Linked DNA regions of Homo sapiens. The main gene of each other region encodes a partner of the protein of the gene in region 2 in a complex. Each region holds a gene or a part of one and is shown on either strand. Other genes may lie near its edges. The genes, in order: XPO5 and XPO1.

The links.
Region 1: XPO1 (region 2) and XPO5 share a complex: the UniProt entries of both Homo sapiens proteins name them as parts of the nuclear export receptor complex.

The regions. Positions count from the first base shown.
Region 1 is NC_000006.12:43,572,743-43,581,368, forward strand, and holds the start of XPO5 (exportin-5), read right to left. Parts: upstream 3,297-8,626; 5' UTR 3,123-3,296; coding exon 3,018-3,122; intron 860-3,017; coding exon 738-859; intron 1-737. UniProt on the Homo sapiens protein: Mediates the nuclear export of proteins bearing a double-stranded RNA binding domain (dsRBD) and double-stranded RNAs (cargos). XPO5 in the nucleus binds cooperatively to the RNA and to the GTPase Ran in its active GTP-bound form.
Region 2 is NC_000002.12:61,492,843-61,500,920, forward strand, and holds part of XPO1 (exportin-1), read right to left. Parts: intron 7,053-8,078; coding exon 6,871-7,052; intron 6,072-6,870; coding exon 6,023-6,071; intron 5,951-6,022; coding exon 5,831-5,950; intron 4,166-5,830; coding exon 4,037-4,165; intron 2,772-4,036; coding exon 2,613-2,771; intron 1,250-2,612; coding exon 1,052-1,249; intron 212-1,051; coding exon 73-211; intron 1-72. UniProt on the Homo sapiens protein: Mediates the nuclear export of cellular proteins (cargos) bearing a leucine-rich nuclear export signal (NES) and of RNAs.

The DNA.
Region 1 (8,626 bases), on a different chromosome or scaffold from region 2:
CCAAAATACTAACACAAAAATTCTTGGGAAAAGGTTTTATATATGCAGTGGTCCATTAACTGGAATCCGCACAAGATTTGTACCACACGTCAGCTTTGCCTCATGATTTTATTGATGGGCCAAAAGTGAATATACATCTAGGTCAACTGCAACAATGTACTTGCTTTTCAGAAAATGCAGTTTTGACATCAGTCATTTTCTGTGCTGGCTTACAAAACAATTCTGGAAAAACTATGGCTAAGTCTTAAAGGCTACCTCTTCTGATAGGTGTTGAGGGTAGGACAATCAAGTTAGGATGGGTTTTCAGTTATTCTCATACAATCCTGCTTTGGATGTACCACCCAGAGAAGGCACACAAACTCAGAAAGACAGAGAGAAAAAAGAAAGCCACAGTGCCTAATCAGAGATTCATTGACCTATACATTGCATTACTCTAAAAAGGCTTCGAGGGCTAATGACATATAGTCAGAGCTCAGTAAGTATTGGCTAAATGGCAGGTAATATTTGTTGAATGGGTAATATGTACCACACACTTTACATGGATGAAGAAACTGAAGAAAAGAAAGGTTAAATCTTGAATGAGAGCTCCTGTGAGGTTCTGATAACATCTAGGGGATCATTCCTCTCTTCTTGGAGATTGCTCTTCTCTACTCACCTAAACAGCATCTCTATAGGTTATATAAGATATAAAGATCTGTTCTCTCAGACTTCAGTGGTAATGTCCAAGAGCTCCTTACTTGACAACGTGTTCCAGGATCTGAAGGCCAAAATGTCTGACGATGGCAACTTGTGTTTTCTCAGCCAACCTCAAGCCACAGGGGACACAGATAGGACACTTTTCTTTAAACTCCTCACAAAACTGAAAGAAGAAAAGTTAGTGTTTCCTTTCGAGGGCTGAGAGAATAGGGACTAAAAGAATTTCATCTTAAGAAACTCCAACCAGGGCCGGGTGCGGTGGCTCACACCTGTCCCAGCACTCTGGGAGGCTGAGATGGGTGGACTACTTGAGTCTAGGAGTCTGAGACTAGCCTAGGCAACATGGCGAAACCCCATCTCTATTAAATATATATATATATATATATTTTTTTTTTTTTTTTTTGAGACGGAGTCTCACTCTGTCGCCCAGGCTGGAATGCAATGGCATGATCTCGGCTCACTGCAACCTCTGCTTCCCAGGTTCAAGCAGTTCTCCTGCCTCAGCCTCCTGAGCCCATGTAGCTGGGACTACAAGTGCACGCCACCACACCCAGCTAATTTTTGTATTTTTAGTAGAAACAAGGTTTCATCATGTTGACCAGGCTGGTCTTGAACTCCTGACCTCAGGTGACCCACCTGCCTTGGCCTCCCAAAGTGCTGGGATTACAGGCGTGAGCCACTGTGCCCGGCCCACTAAAAATATTTTTTTAAATTAGCCGGGCATGGTGGCAGGTGCCTGTAATCCCAGCTACTCAGGAGGCTGAAGTGGTAGGAGAATCACTTGAGCTCGAGAAATCAAGGCTGAAGTGAGCCGAGATCTCACCACTGCACGCCAGCCTGGACAACCAGAGTGAGACCCTACTCAAAAAGAAACTCCAACCTAAGCTATATGTTTAAAGTTGCAAAACCTAGATCAATATTATGTGGATCTCCAAGCACAGTTGCTTTAAAAATATATATTTAATATAAAAATAAAAATATAAAATATATAAAAGTTACACATATATAACATTTCCTCCAAGTGGTGTTCACTCTATTTTATGTGTATATATTATATATATATTATGAATAAAGAACTGATAAACATTCCTTCCAGCGTGATGGTTCCAGATTTTTTCCATGCTACGGCCAACAGTAGCCCTACTAGTGTTGGAAAAAAATGGACACAAAGGAATAAGAAATTATTTGTTAGAGACATCCCCCTGACGTACATAGGGGTGAAATAACAATTTCTAGGGTTTCTTTTAAAAACCTTCGAGGCAGGGAGAGAGGATAGGCGGTGGAAAAAGTAAATGCGGTAAAATCTTTGATTGCTGAATTTAGGTGACAGGAACATGCAGAATCACTGTCGTATTCTCTCCACTTTTGTGTCTATTTTAAATATTAATAATAAAAACCAAACTAATGGAACCCAATTGTTTCTGATTCCAAACCCTGTGGCAGACATCTACATATTGTAACATTTCCTCCAAGTGGTGGTCACTCTCTTTTTTGAAGTTAACATCACTTTAAAAATGTACAGCACAAGTATTTTCTCCTAAATGGCCATTTCTCACAGCCCACACACGTTGTTTTATGGGCAAGTAAGCTTGAATTGTATTAACACCCCCAAACTGCAACATAAGTCAGTCCCAAGAGCAGAGCATTCGGGTCTCACGCAAACTACTTTCAGGAAACCAAAGTGCCCTTGTTAAAATGCAAAGTAAGTGGTAGAAGTTATCTTTGCGCAAAATAGCCTAAAAATATTACACTCAAAAACATGGGAGAAGTAGGGGTGCGAGAATTTCCCCGGAAAATGTCCAAGACACAAACGAAAGTTAGCGAGATGTTAAAGCATATAAGCATAAGGGTACCAGAGGGGCTGGAGCTCGGTCAGGGCCAGGGGAGTGGGCCAGCAGGAAAACGTTTAGTGCAGGAGAGACCATAAAGAACGAAGCTGGTGTTGGGGGCGGGATCTACACGTGCGCCTCGGGAAGGCGAGGGGATGTCGGGCTTGGGGAATGAAAATGGGCGAGGGTCATGTTGCGGACAAGAGTGCACAGAAGCGAGGAAAGGGGGAGGAGAGGGCTGTGGGAAGCTGCGGCGAGATGAGAAGCAGCATAGGGACCGGAGTGTCCCAGGCAAAGGACAGGAGCGGCGAGTAGAGAAGGCGGCGATTTGGGAGAGGCGCGGAGGGCCGCGAGGGGAAGGTCCCGGGGAGTTGGGAAAGGAGGTCCAGGGGCCGCGTGGGCGGGAGACTACCCCAGTTACAGGCGGCGCCGGAGCTGCTGGGGCTGGGAGAGGGTGTCGGGACCGGCCCAGGACGCCAGGACCCCAGCTACCTTGAGGGCTTCCAGCCGGTAGCGCTGGGTGGAGTTGGGGTCCATCATGACCGTCACCGCTTTCACCAGCTGCTCGCACAGCGCGTTTACTTGATCCATCGCCATGCCTAGCGCCACGCGCCGAGAGCGCACACCACTGCAGTCCCGGGACCACGAGGCACGACAGCTCCCTCGGCGAGACCACCCGTTGGTACCGGGCCGCGGCGGGCGGCGGGGGTGGGAAGCTGGAGGAGGAGCGTTAGCAGCAACTCGCGCTGGGAAGAAGCCGGCGCTGCGCACGCGCCCGGCCCGCCACTGCGCACGCGCCCGCGGAAGTGGCGGCTCCCGTGTGCAGGTTGAGCCTAGGTGGGCGGGGCGGGAGGCGGAAGGGCCGCGGTGCGCAGCCGCGTCAACGGCCCTTCGCAGCGGGCGCGCTGTCAGACCTCAGTCTGGCGGCTGCATTGCTGGGCGCGCCGCTCTCGTCTGATCCCTGCTGGGGACGGTTGCCCGGGCAGGATCCTTTACGATCCCTTCTCGGTTTCTCCGTCGTCACAGGGAATAAATCTCGCTCGAAACTCACTGGACCGCTCCTAGAAAGGCGAAAAGATATTCAGGAGCCCTTCCATTTTCCTTCCAGTAGGCACCGAACCCAGCATTTTCGGCAACCGCTGCTGGCAGTTTTGCCAGGTGTTTGTTACCTTGGTAAGAAAATTTAGAACCGTTCGCTGTCACTGTGTTCAGACTTTCTATGTTGCCTTGGCTATTGGTTTTATAATGTAGCAGTGACTGGGCCAAGGTTGCGTGAAATATAAATCATGCTAACAGGGATAAGGCCCTGGTACTGTCTTCTAAGATTTTTCTTGTAGAAAAAAGTATGTTTTTCCCTGTAGTTGTTAAACCTCTCTCTTGGAATTACTTTCCTGGATGTATTATTACCTGGTGGGCACTAAACTTGTTTTGTGCGGATTGGGGTAACTCGAGATGTTTAAAGGGAATAATTGCAATCAGTGAAGGTTTGTGCAGTTTTGATAATTGGCCAAGTGCTATGTATAAGGTTTCAAAGTAGTGTAATCCTTATCCAAAAGCATGGCTTGGGCAGAAAGTCTTCTTCATTTTCCATCTTTATAAAGCTCTTGGCCGGGCGCGGTGGCTCACGCCTGTAATCCCAGCACTTTGGGAGGCGGAGGCGGGCGGATCACCTGAGGTCAGGAGTTCGAGACCAGCCTCACCAACATGGTGAAACCCCGTTTCTACTAAACATACAAAAATTATGTTTGCATTTTTAGTATTTTTATACAGGCGTGGCGGTGCGCGCCTGTAATCCCAGCTACTCGGGAGGCTGAGGTGGGAGAATCGCTTGAACCCGGGAGGCGGAGGTTCAGTGAGCCGAGATCGCGCCTTTGCACTCCAGCCTGGGCGACAGAGCGAAACTCCGTCTCAAAAATAAATAAATAAAGCTCTTGCTTTCTCCAGTAAATACATAAACGGAAAACCTCAACAGCTTTATTATCTGTTAAAGTCTGCATGTCTGTTTTTGTGATTGTGTGCTTAGTAAATTGTGTGCTGAACATAAATCACTGCTTCCTATTCTTGCTCCACTTCTGGTATTTGGATCTAATATGGTGCTTAGCCTGTGTTTTTTTGTGTTACAATACTATTTGTTGGCTCAGTCTGTTCCAGTACTACTGAAAAGCCACTTCAAAGTAGAGGGACTTCTGGCATGTTATAGTTTTAACTTGTAAATGTTTAAAGTATCACATTCTGCCTGTTTTAGGCGTGGTCGATTGGAATTTATAAGGAATTAATGCTTTGACTGCTCTGATTTTAATTATTTTTCTTTCCACTCACCTTCCTGCTTTGCAGTTGTAAGACGTTTTTTTTTTCAAGGTGAATGTTAGTTTTTGAAAAACTTTTTTTAGAATACAGTTGGGTGCTCACTCAACTGTATAACCTGTGTTTCTCGTATTTAAATCATGGATTGCTGGTGTTTCGATTGTCTTATTTAGGTCTTGGCTCCCAAACTGCTGCATATTGGAATTACCTGGAGAGCTTTTAAAAATCCCCGGCCTGGCGCGGTGGCACACGCCTGTAATCCCAGCACTTTGGGAGGCCGAGGCGGGCGGATCACGAGGTCAGGAGATCGAGACCATCCTGGCTAACACGGTGAAACCCCGTCTCTACTAAAAATACAAAAAATTAGCCGGGCGGGGTGGCACGCGCCTGTAGTCCCAGCTAATGGGGATGAGGCAGAGGAATCACTTGAAACCGGGAGATGGAGGTTGCAGTGAGCTGAGATCTCACCACTGCACTTCAGCCTGGGTGACAGACGGAGACTCTGTCTAGGAAAAAAAAAAATCCCCATGCTAGGCCGAGCGCGATGGCTCACGCCTGTAATCCCAGCACTTTGGGAGGCCGAGGTGGGTGGATCGCCTAAGGTCAGGAGTTAGAGACTAGCCTGGCCAACATGGTGAAACCCAGTCTCTACTCGAAATACAAAAATTAGCCGGGCGTGGTGGCGTGCGCCTGTAATCCCAGCTACTCAGGAGGCTGAGGCAGGAGAATCGCTTGAACCCGGGAGGCGTAGGTTGCAGTGAGCCGAGACTGTGCCATTGCACTCCAGCCTGCGCAACGAGAACGAAACTCTAACTCAAAAACAACAACAACAACAAAAAACTCATGCCCAGGTCATACCCATACCAATTAAGTTAGTATATATAGTTGTGGAAGTCAAATATCAGTAGTATTTAAAGCAGCCTGGCGGGGGGACAAGAGCGAGACTTTGTCTCAAAAAAAAAAAAGTGTCATGGTCATGAAAAACAAGGAACAACCGAGGAAATGCCACAGATTGGGGGGCAGTAAAGTATGTAGTTAATAATATGCCAATGTTCATTTTTAAATTTTGGTAATTGTGTTAAGTAAGATGTTAACATCAGGAAACTGGGAGTAGGAGAACTCTACCATTTTTGCGATTTTCTGTAAGTCTAAAAGTATTTCAGAGTAAAAGGTTGACATTTTTCATGAATGCTATGATGTTATATATTATTTTCTCCTTCTCTTTTCTCTGAATTTATACTTGAGATTTGTCTGTCAACTGATTCCGTATTGGTTCTCTTCCCCTGGTGATGTGCATTTTAATTTCCATTTCCCCATGACTAATGATGGTGAGCCTATTTTTATGTGCCAATTGGCTATGTTTGTATTTTGTGGTTAGTTCTTTTAAGGATAAGTATTTTTAAAGCTTTTAATACCTATTGCCTTCATAAAATTGTACTAATTTATCCTTATGCCAGCAGTACAGGTTGAGTATCTGTGATATTGTGATATATGTATGTTAGTTTTTGTCCACGGTTCCTAGCTCATAACTCCCCTAGCTTTCGTTATAATGTTGGAGCTCTTGAAGCAAGCCTCAGAAAACAGAATCTCTCTCTGGCCTTCTGCCCTCCTTTCACCTGCCCAAAGCAGGACTCTAATCTTCCCCTGCCTTTCTGATTATGGGTCATAAGACTTTCATTTCAGAAGAGTTCCTACCCCATACCCTGGAGAAAGGAATGCTACCCAGAGAGGCCAGGAAGAATCTGGACAGGCCTTGCTGGGTTTCCCCAGTCTATTAGTATTAGATCATATCTTTTTTGTCCAGTCACATTTCTACACGGATGTCAGTCATGCCTATCCAATGAAGTTTCCATAAAAGGCCCAAGAGGAGAGGGTTCGAAGAGCTGCTGGATAGGAGCAAAAGGAAGTTCCTGGAGAGTGGTGTTCCCAGGGAGGGCATGCCTTGCCATGTGTATCTCTTCATCTGTATATCCTTTATAATAAACTAGTAAATTTGATTACCTGAGTTCTGTGAGCCACTCTGGCAAATTAACTGAACCCAAAGAGGGGCTCATGAGATTCCCAATTTATATCCAGTCAGTTAGAAGCACAGGTAAAACAACCTGTGGCTTGTGATTGGCATCAGAAGTAGGGGGCAGTCTTGTGGGACTGAGCCATCAACCTGTGAGATCTGACGCTTTCTCCAGGTAGATAATGTCAGACTCGAATTGGAGGATACCCACTTGGTGTCTGCTGCAGAATTGATTGCTTGTTTGTTGGTGGGGAGAAATCCTCACACATTTGGTCACAGAAGTCTACCTTATTGATTGTTGTTGAGTGAAAGAATCTTTTTTTTTTTTTTTTAAATTTATTTTTTTATTGATAATTCTTGGGTGTTTCTCACAGAGGGGGATTTGGCAGGGTCATGGGACAATAGTGGAGGGAAGGTCAGCAGATAAACAAGTGAACAAAGGTCTCTGGTTTTCCTAGGCAGAGGACCCTGCGGCCTTCCGCAGTGTTTGTGTCCCTGATTACTTGAGATCAGGGATTGGTGATGACTCTTAACGAGCATGCTGCCTTCAAGCATCTGTTTAACAAAGCACATCTTACACCGCCCTTAATCCATTTAACCCTGAGTGGACACAGCACATGTTTCAGAGAGCACAGGGTTGGGGGTAAGGTCACAGATCAACAGGATCCCAAGGCAGAGGAATTTTTCTTAGTGCAGAACAAAATGAAAAGTCTCCCATGTCTACTTCTTTCTACACAGACACGGCAACCATCCGATTTCTCAATCTTTTCCCCACCTTTCCCGCCTTTCTATTCCACAAAGCCGCCATTGTCATCATGGCCCGTTCTCAATGAGCTGTTGGGCACACCTCCCAGACGGGGTGGTGGCCGGGCAGAGGGGCTCCTCACTTCCCAGTAGGGGCGGCCGGGCAGAGGCGCCCCTCACCTCCCGGACGGGGCGGCTGGCCGGGCGGGGGGCTGACCCCCCAACCTCCCTCCCGGACGGGGCGGCTGGCCGGGCAGAGGGGCTCCTCACTTCCCAGTAGGGGCGGCCGGGCAGAGGCGCCCCTCACCTCCCGGACGGGGCGGCTGGCCGGGCAGGGGGGCTGACCCCCCCACCTCCCTCCCGGACTGGGCGGCTGGCCGGGCGGGGGGCCGACACCCCCACCTCCCTCCCGGACGGGGCGGCTGGCCGGGCGGGGGGCCGACCCCCCCACCTCCCTCCCGGACTGGGCGGCTGGCCGGGCAGAGGGGCTCCTCACTTCCCAGTAGGGGCGGCCGGGCAGAGGCGCCCCTCACCTCCCAGACGGGGCGGCTGGCCGGGCGGAGGGCTGACCCCCCCACCTCCCTCCCGGACGGCACGGCTGGCCAGGCGGGGGGCTGACCCCCCCACCTCCCTCCCGGATGGGGCGGCTGGCCGGGCGGGGGGCTGACCCCCCCCCACCTCCCTCCCGGACGGGGTGGCTGCCGGGCGGAGACGCTCCTCACTTCCCAGATGGGGTGGCTGCCGGGCGGAGAGGCTCCTCACTTCTCAGACGGGGCAGCTGCCGGGCGGAGGGGCTCCTCACTTCTCAGACGGGGTGGTTGCCAGGCAGAGGGTCTCCTCACTTCTCAGACGGGGCAGCCGGGCAGAGACGCTCCTCACCTCCCAGACGGGGTCTCGGCAGGGCAGAGGCGCTCCTCACATCCCAGATGGGGCGGCGGGGCAGAGGCGCTCCCCACATCTCAGACGATGGGCGGGCGGGCAGAGACGCTCCTCACTTCCTAGATGTGATGGCGGCTGGGAAGAGGCGCTCCTCACTTCCTAG
Region 2 (8,078 bases):
CATTTCCTAAAATGTATTTCCACCCCAGAATAGATTTATAAAGGTAAAGATTAACAGTATTTATTAACTTACCCAATGTTTCCCTCATATTCTTATACAAATTTATGGAATCTGTATCCTTCATGAATTCTCTCACAACTTCTCCTTGATCATTCTCTACAACCAATACTTCCTCTGGTTTAGCCATTCGACTAACCATTAATAAACGGACCTATACTCAACAATATATCAATCAAGAAAAAAATCGTTAGATCACTGAAATCATTAGTGTAGAAGCTTAGTTAAAAACAAACAAAACCAAAAAAACCACAAGCCAGCCATGTGTAGGGATTCATGCCTATAATTCCAACTATTCCGGAGGGCCGAGGCAAAAAGAACTGTTGTGGCCAGGAATTTGAGAGCAGCTTGAGCAACACAAAATGACACCCAATCTCTAAAACAATAAAAATACTGGGGCTTAAAGCACAACAGAAAAAACTATGTAAATATAAATGAAGTAAAACTAAAAAATTTAAAATTTGCTAGGCATGGTGGTGTGTGCCTGCAACCAATTACTTGGGAGGCTGACACAAGAGAATTGCTTTAGTCTAGGAGTTCAAGATTGTAGTGAGCTATGACCACGCCACTGCACTCCAACCTGAGCCACAGAGCAAGACCCTGTCTCCAAAAGAAAAAATTTTTTTTCACTGTAATTCTACAAAAATGGCTTTATAATTATTTAAGTGTGTTTTAATGTGATTTTTTTAACCAACTTCTGTTACAGGAGTTTCCTGTGTCTCATTCCTAGACTCTGGTTTAGTAGATTGGCAGGTGGCCAATGAATTTGCCTAACGAAATCACAACCAATGTTGATACTGAGAGAAGGACCACACTCTTGAGAATCAAGGTTCTAGACTCAACTCCTTTCATGTTCTAGTTTTCCACACTCATGGAGAAGTTGTTGGGTTCTCTTTTTATAGCTAATTTATTTACACAGATTAGAAGTATTTGGATTCAGACCTCAAAACCACAGTATGCAACAGGAAGAACACTCAACCAACCGCTCTGTTACCTTGAATAACATGGGCAAATATAGCTGTCTCCTGGGAGGAACATCAAAATGTTGACTTCCAGAAAGCAACGGAGAGGCAGATGTAGAGAATGGACTCTCTCTATAGAGTTCAGCAGCCAAATGATTCCAGTATTCAAGACAAATTTTAAAGATTTCAGTTTCTTCTACTTCAGATACCAACAACATATAATGAAGGGCCTACACAGAAGACCAAAACTGTTAAAATAATTCTTAAACATTACCAACTTCAAATTGCTTTTCACTTGTTACACCTTAAGGGAAAATAAAAATTCATGTTTTATTCATCACAACTCAGATTTCAATACTTATCAAATAGACAGCAAACTCTGGAGTAACTCTGCTTCTTCTGACATGCCCTAAAGCACTTCAAAAATCTCTCACATAGTAGTTGATCAATATGTATTTTTATCATGTCTCCTAATGGAACGACATTTATTTAAAAGGCCTTGGGTGCCAATAAGTGGTATCACAACCCAAATGTACCATCACAGAGGAGAGAACAAACAAAATACTGAATATTCATACAATGAGAATATTCTTCAGACATGATAAAAAGTGAGGTATTGATACAGGTTACAACATGGAAGAACATTGAAAACACAACACCAAATAAAAGAAACCAGACACAAAAGGTCACATGCATGATTCCCTTTATATGGTATAATCAGAATAGATATATCTACAGAGACAGAAACCAAAATAATGGTTGCCAGAAGTTGGGGAGAGAACAAAGGAGAAAGTGACTGTTTTAGGGGTAAAGGGTCACCTTCGGGTGATGAAAATGTTTTGGATCTAGGTATTAATGGTTGTATAACATTGTATATATACTAATATGCCACTGAATTGTGTGTGTGTGTGTATATATATATATACTTATGTTTATATATATATATACTTAAGTTTATATATATATATAAAGAGAGAGAGAGAGACATTTTCTTCCTTCAGACAGAGTCTTGCTCTGTCACTCAGGCTGGAGTGCAGTACTGTGATCTTGGCTCACTGCAACCTCAGCCTACTGGGCTAAAGCAATTCCTGTGCTTCAGCCTCCTGAGGAGCTGGGATTACAGTCATGTGACACCACGCACAGCTAATTTTTTTGTATTTTTAATAGAGACAGAGATTCACGATGTAGGCCAGGCTGGTCTCGAACTCCTGCCTCAAGTGATCCACCCACCTCCGCCTCCCAAAGTGCTGGGATTACACGATGAATTGTATATCTTTAAATGAACAAATGCATGTTATTTGAATTAAAACTGAAATTTTAAAATAAGGTCTTTGAAATTTTAACCTTAGAAATGATATAATAATTAGTAATTTAATTTTGATTATAAATTTTTAGTCCTAGCTTTATGGAGAACATAAAATCAGAAAACTGGGCTTATAACTGTAATTCAGAATTGAGAATATATATAATGTACTGATCAAATATTAAGTAATAAGAAATCTCAAAAGGTACATACATTTTAGAAAAAGGCACTTTTAAGAGTTATTAGTAGGCAGAGCAGAATTTTAGGAGCAAAAGCTCCACATATCTTACCTCCATAAGAGTTTCCCTGAGATTTAATCTTTTTTCTATAAGTTGATCATGTTCCTTAAGAAAGGTGCAGAGAAACAAACTGAGATTTTGAATGAAGTTCTGTTCATCATCTTTTCCATTTGAGTACGCAAGTCGAATATTGGTATTTAAAGGAAGCATCTGCAAATTTTAAAAGGGACGATCAGTTCGCATTTTATAAAACAACTAAAGACACTTAATATTTTATTATTATTTTTTTGAGACAAGGTATCACTCTGTCCAGGCTGGAGTGCAGTGGTATGACCAAAGCTCACTGCAGCCTCCACCTCCTAGGCCCAATCAGTCCTCCTCAGCCCCTCCCGAGTAGCTGGAACCACAGGTATGTGCCATCGCACTAAGCTTATTTTTAACATTTTTGTAGAGACGGTATCTTGTTATGTTGTCCAGGCTGGTCTCAAACTCCTGGCTCAAGCAATCCTCCCACCTTAGCCTCCCAAAGTGCTGGGATTAAAGGTCTGAGCTATTGCACTCAGCCAACACTATTATTTTTAAGCCCTAATATCCCAACACCCTTTTGCTAATATTAAACCACATACAGAACTCCTAGGTCCAGTATACCTATTCTTATATCTCTAGGACTTAGATTTTGACTCTTCTCAAATAAATTAAAGGCCGCTATCACAGCCTTTAAATTTTTCTAGTATTTCTCACTGACATTGAAAAATGTAAAAATAATCAATTCATTCATTCAGATCACAAACATACATAGTAATCTATCTTTCCTTGTTTTTTAAAAGAGACAGGGATTTACCCTGTCATCCAGGCTGGAGTGCAATAGTGTGACCATAGCTCATTTTAACTTTGTATTAATAGGCTCAAGCGATCCTATTGCCTCAGCCTCCAGAGTAGCTGGAACTACAGGTGTGCAACACCACAGCTAGCTATTTTTTAAATCTTTCGTAGGTATGGTCTGGTTATGTTGTCCTGGCTGGTCTCGAACTCCTGGCATCAACTGGTCCTCCCATTCTGGCCTCCCAAAGTTCTGGGATTACAGTATTAACCACCATGCCTGGCCATGAACACAGTATTATGAATAACCTTCTAGATCATTTAATAGATAACCAATCAAACTAGGGCTGAAAAGAATTCCTTCAGACACAATGTTAGGAACAAGTCCCAGGTTTCCCACTGTCTGGTCAGGTATCTCCCAAAAGACCAAGCTCCTAAAGTGTGCAGAAATAAATTACCACAACACACCCCAAACCTGAATTTTAAGAAATTTTTGGAAACATCATAAAAATTTGTAGCTTACTACAAATTTTATGTAATAAACAAAAGATTATGGCTTATCTTTGATACGTCGTTCTAAAATAACTCATTTGGAATTTGGTATTTTCTAAGGCACTAAAATTATTCAGCCAATTTTCAAGATAGTATTATATTACCTGCTTTAGTTGCATCATTGTCAGAGTAAATAGTGTTACAAATTGTTCTTCATATTGGCTTACACTCACACCAGCAATCTCAGTGAGGCACTTCAGAGAGACATTTCGAAACATTGGAACATTCAGGAACTATTTAAAAGGGGGGAGGGAACCATAAAATTAATTGGCCTGATACACACTTTACTTAAAATTCACAATTAAAAGGAAAAAGGCTTTAACAATTAAATATAGGGGTAGATGTCAAAAACAGGCCAAGTGAATGAACATATTTTATCATGCAGATATACTGAGAGGGAATTTTATTGCCTACCTAGTATACAGTAAATGCTTTAGGAGCAAACTTTTTTTGTTTTTTTGAGACAGAGTCTCGCTCGCCCAGGCTGAAATGCAGGGGCTTGATCTCGGCTCACTGCAACCTCACCTCTTGGATTCAAGCGATTCTCCTGCCTCAGCCTCTCAAATAGCTGGGACTACACATGCATGCCACCACGCCCGGCTAATTTTTGTATTTTTAGTAGAGACAGGGTTTTGCCACGTTGGGCCAGGCTGGTCTCGATCTCCTGACCTCGTGATCCGCTCACCTCGACCTCCCAAAGTGCTGGGATTACAGGCGTGAGCCACAGCGCCCGGCCTAAACTGCTTTCTTTTGATGTGTCCTAAAATAACAAGGCTCCTTAACAACTTTCCTAGAATCTGTGATATGACTTTTAGGAATGTTATACTTTCTGTGTAATTACACAGGACCTAAAACTTGTGATTGCTTAGAATTTTGGGAAATGGTCAATGTATCTAAGAGTAATAAGAATATGGGAAAATTGGCTTATATATTCTATTGTTGAGAAGATAAACAGTTATCGTCTGGGGTTGGAAATCAGGGGGCATTAAAACCTTAAAATTAAACATACCTAATAATCTGGTGATTAAACATTAAAATATTTAAATAAATTAATGTTTGGACAATTGCATAATATCTTATGTCTGAGAATGTTCTCTGTAGGACTGTTGACAATAGAAAGGTTTTTACATAATTAAGCAATAAACTGATCATTCAAATACTATAAATCCATATTATCTTACCAAACTAAACTACGAAGTTGAAGAGGTCAAGTTATAATGTTCCAATTAGATACTTAATTTATTCATTATATCAGTCAAGAAAACATCTGAAAATATAATACAACCAACTGGTAACAGTGATTATCTCTGGATAAACCACTGTAGAACTTTACTTATTTTGAGACAGGGTCTCGCTCTGTTGCCCAGGCTGGAGTGCAGTGGCACGATCTTGGCTCACTGCACCTTCTGCCTCCTGAGTTTGAGATTCTCCTGCCACAGCCTCCCGAGTAGCTGGGACTACAGGCATACACCACCACGCCTGGCTGTTTTGTATTTTTAGTAGAGACCGGTTTCACCAACTTGCCCAGGCTAAACCATTATAGAACTTAAGCCATAACATGGTATCAATTTTAAATTATCAGTTAAAAGATGAACTTTTCATTTTTCAGAAATAGCACTTGACTTACCTCACTGTAACTTACTCAAACTAAAAGCAATATAATCAAATCCATTGTTCAAAATGAATTCATAAAATTACATGGTCTAAGTGGCAGAATCAGATTTGAAACTCACTTTAAATAATTTACTAGGTGTGAATATGGGAAATTTCTCCTGAGCAGCGTCCTCGTGTTAGAAACAAGGTTGAATAAGGTTTAGAATGCAGAGATGAGAGCTTTACATGTGAAAAGAATATATGTGGCTATCCGGTGACAAATAACTGAAATGTATTCACTGTACCTTATAAATCAATGTGCTGATTAATTTGGTCTCAAAAATATATCCCAGGGGAATCCAGTTCAGAAATCTGAGCAATGTTTCCAAGGTTGCATGTACAAGTGGAGCATTTTGAGAATTTTCCTATAACAAAACACACTTGTAAATAATTGCTTTCCTATTATTGTTTTTAAAAATGAAATTAAAAACACTTACCATTACAAACTGACACAGTTGAAATATCTGTGAGAATTCATTGCACATGCTAAAAAAAAAAACACACAAAAATATCAGATTTAGAAGACACAGAAATAAGTATCAGTTATCTATAATACTAATAAAAATGATTAAAGCCCAGTACAGTGGCTCATGCCTGTAATCGCAGAACTTTGGGAGGCCATGGCAGAAGGATTGTTTGAGACCAGCCTGGGCAACCCAAGGGGAAAAAGATTTCCTAATGACTACAACAAATGTTTAAAACTTAATGGAAGTATAACTATAGTTTATACCAGTTGCTTACTATTAGAGGCAAATCTAGTTTTCTGTTTTGTTTTAAAAAGAACACTATTGTTAACAATTGGGGAACTGAAAAGAAGCAGAGACAATAACTGATTTGAGGCCAGGCTCTGTGGCATGCACCTGCAGTCACAGCTATTTGGGAAACTGAGGCAAGAAAATCACCTCAATCCAGGAGGTGGGGGTTGTGGTGAGCCAAGATTGCGCTGCTGCACTCCACCCCAGGCAATAGAGCAAGACTTGTCTCAAAATAAAATAAAATAACTAATACGTATGTTTGGACACAAATCATTTGCTTAGAACCTATTAAACTAGTTACCATACAAAACAATTCCTGAAGTGTGTCTTGAACAATTCATTTTTCAACCTTCAGAGGTAAATTATTAGGCCCCGTCTAGGACTATTTCTTAATCTGCAGTTGAAAACCACTACAAGCAATTTAACATATTACTGATCATAGTTCCTTAAAATATCTACAATTTACATCCAAACTGCTTGAAATTGTTTGAGAAATCACTTTAAAATTCTAAAACATAATTATTACTTGCCTGTCTTTTAAATGCTTAGATTTGACTTGGGTTATCTGTCCACTAGAGAAATCAAATACTTCTTCACTCAAGAGTTTAAGAATCACCATATTATTTTGACAGAGACTTTCGCTGGTCCTACTTGCTCCAACAATATCACTGATAAAAGTTGGCCAATGTTTGGGCCATTCTTGTTTCAGTATCTAAAACAAGACATGAAATGTTAATCGCACTTCATTTCTCAAAGGCAAATAAAACAAACTTCAAAGAAATTATGTAATGGATAAAGGCAGGAGTAAGGATAAATCACTTTTCATTTTCTCCTCCTTTATTAAAGGAAGAAATGTGCCACCCTCTTCACCCTACTGGGTAGAAAACAAAACACAAAGTCTTTTATCTTAATCACCGCAGGACCCTTTTCAATTATCCTAATGAAAGGTCCAATCCGTCTAATGGGTCTGTCTGTGTATTAGTATCTGCCTGATAGATATGTAGAAATTATTCTAGGAGGCCTTGCGCGGTTGCTCATGCCTGTAATCCCAGCACTTTGTGGGGAGCCAGGGTGGGCAGATCACTTGAGGCCAGGAGTCTGAGAACAGCCTGGCCAGGCTGGGCGTGGTAGCTCGTGCCTGTAATCCCAGCACTTTGGGAGGCCGAGGTAGGAGGATCACGAGGTCAGGAGTTCAAGACCAGCCTGGCCAACATGGTGAAACCCTGTCTCTACTAAAAATACAAAAATTAGCGAGGCATGGTGACGTGTGCCTGTGATCCCAGCTGCTCGGGAGGCTGAGGCAGGAGAATCTCTTGAACCTGGGAGGCAGAGGTTGCAGTGAGCCGAGACCAGGCCACTGCACTCAAGGCTGGGCAACAGGATGAGACTCCATCTCAAAAAAAAAAAAAAAAAAAAGAGCAGCCTGGCCAACATGGTGAAACCCCGTCTCTACTAAAAATACAAAAATTAGCCAGGGGTGGTGGCGCGGGCCAGTAGTCTCAGCTACTGGGGAGGCCAAGGCAGGAGAATTGCTTGAACCTGGGAGGTGGAGGTTTCAGTGAACTAAGACGGTGCCACTGCACTCCAGCATGGGCGACAGAGCGACACTCCATTTCAAACAAGAAAAGAAGAAATTATCCTAGGAGACTCAAGGATTTAATTAACCATTGGTGATAAAAAGTGACCGGTTAAGACAGCTTATTATTGGATGCAATTTGAGCCTTGAAATGTAGTAGGG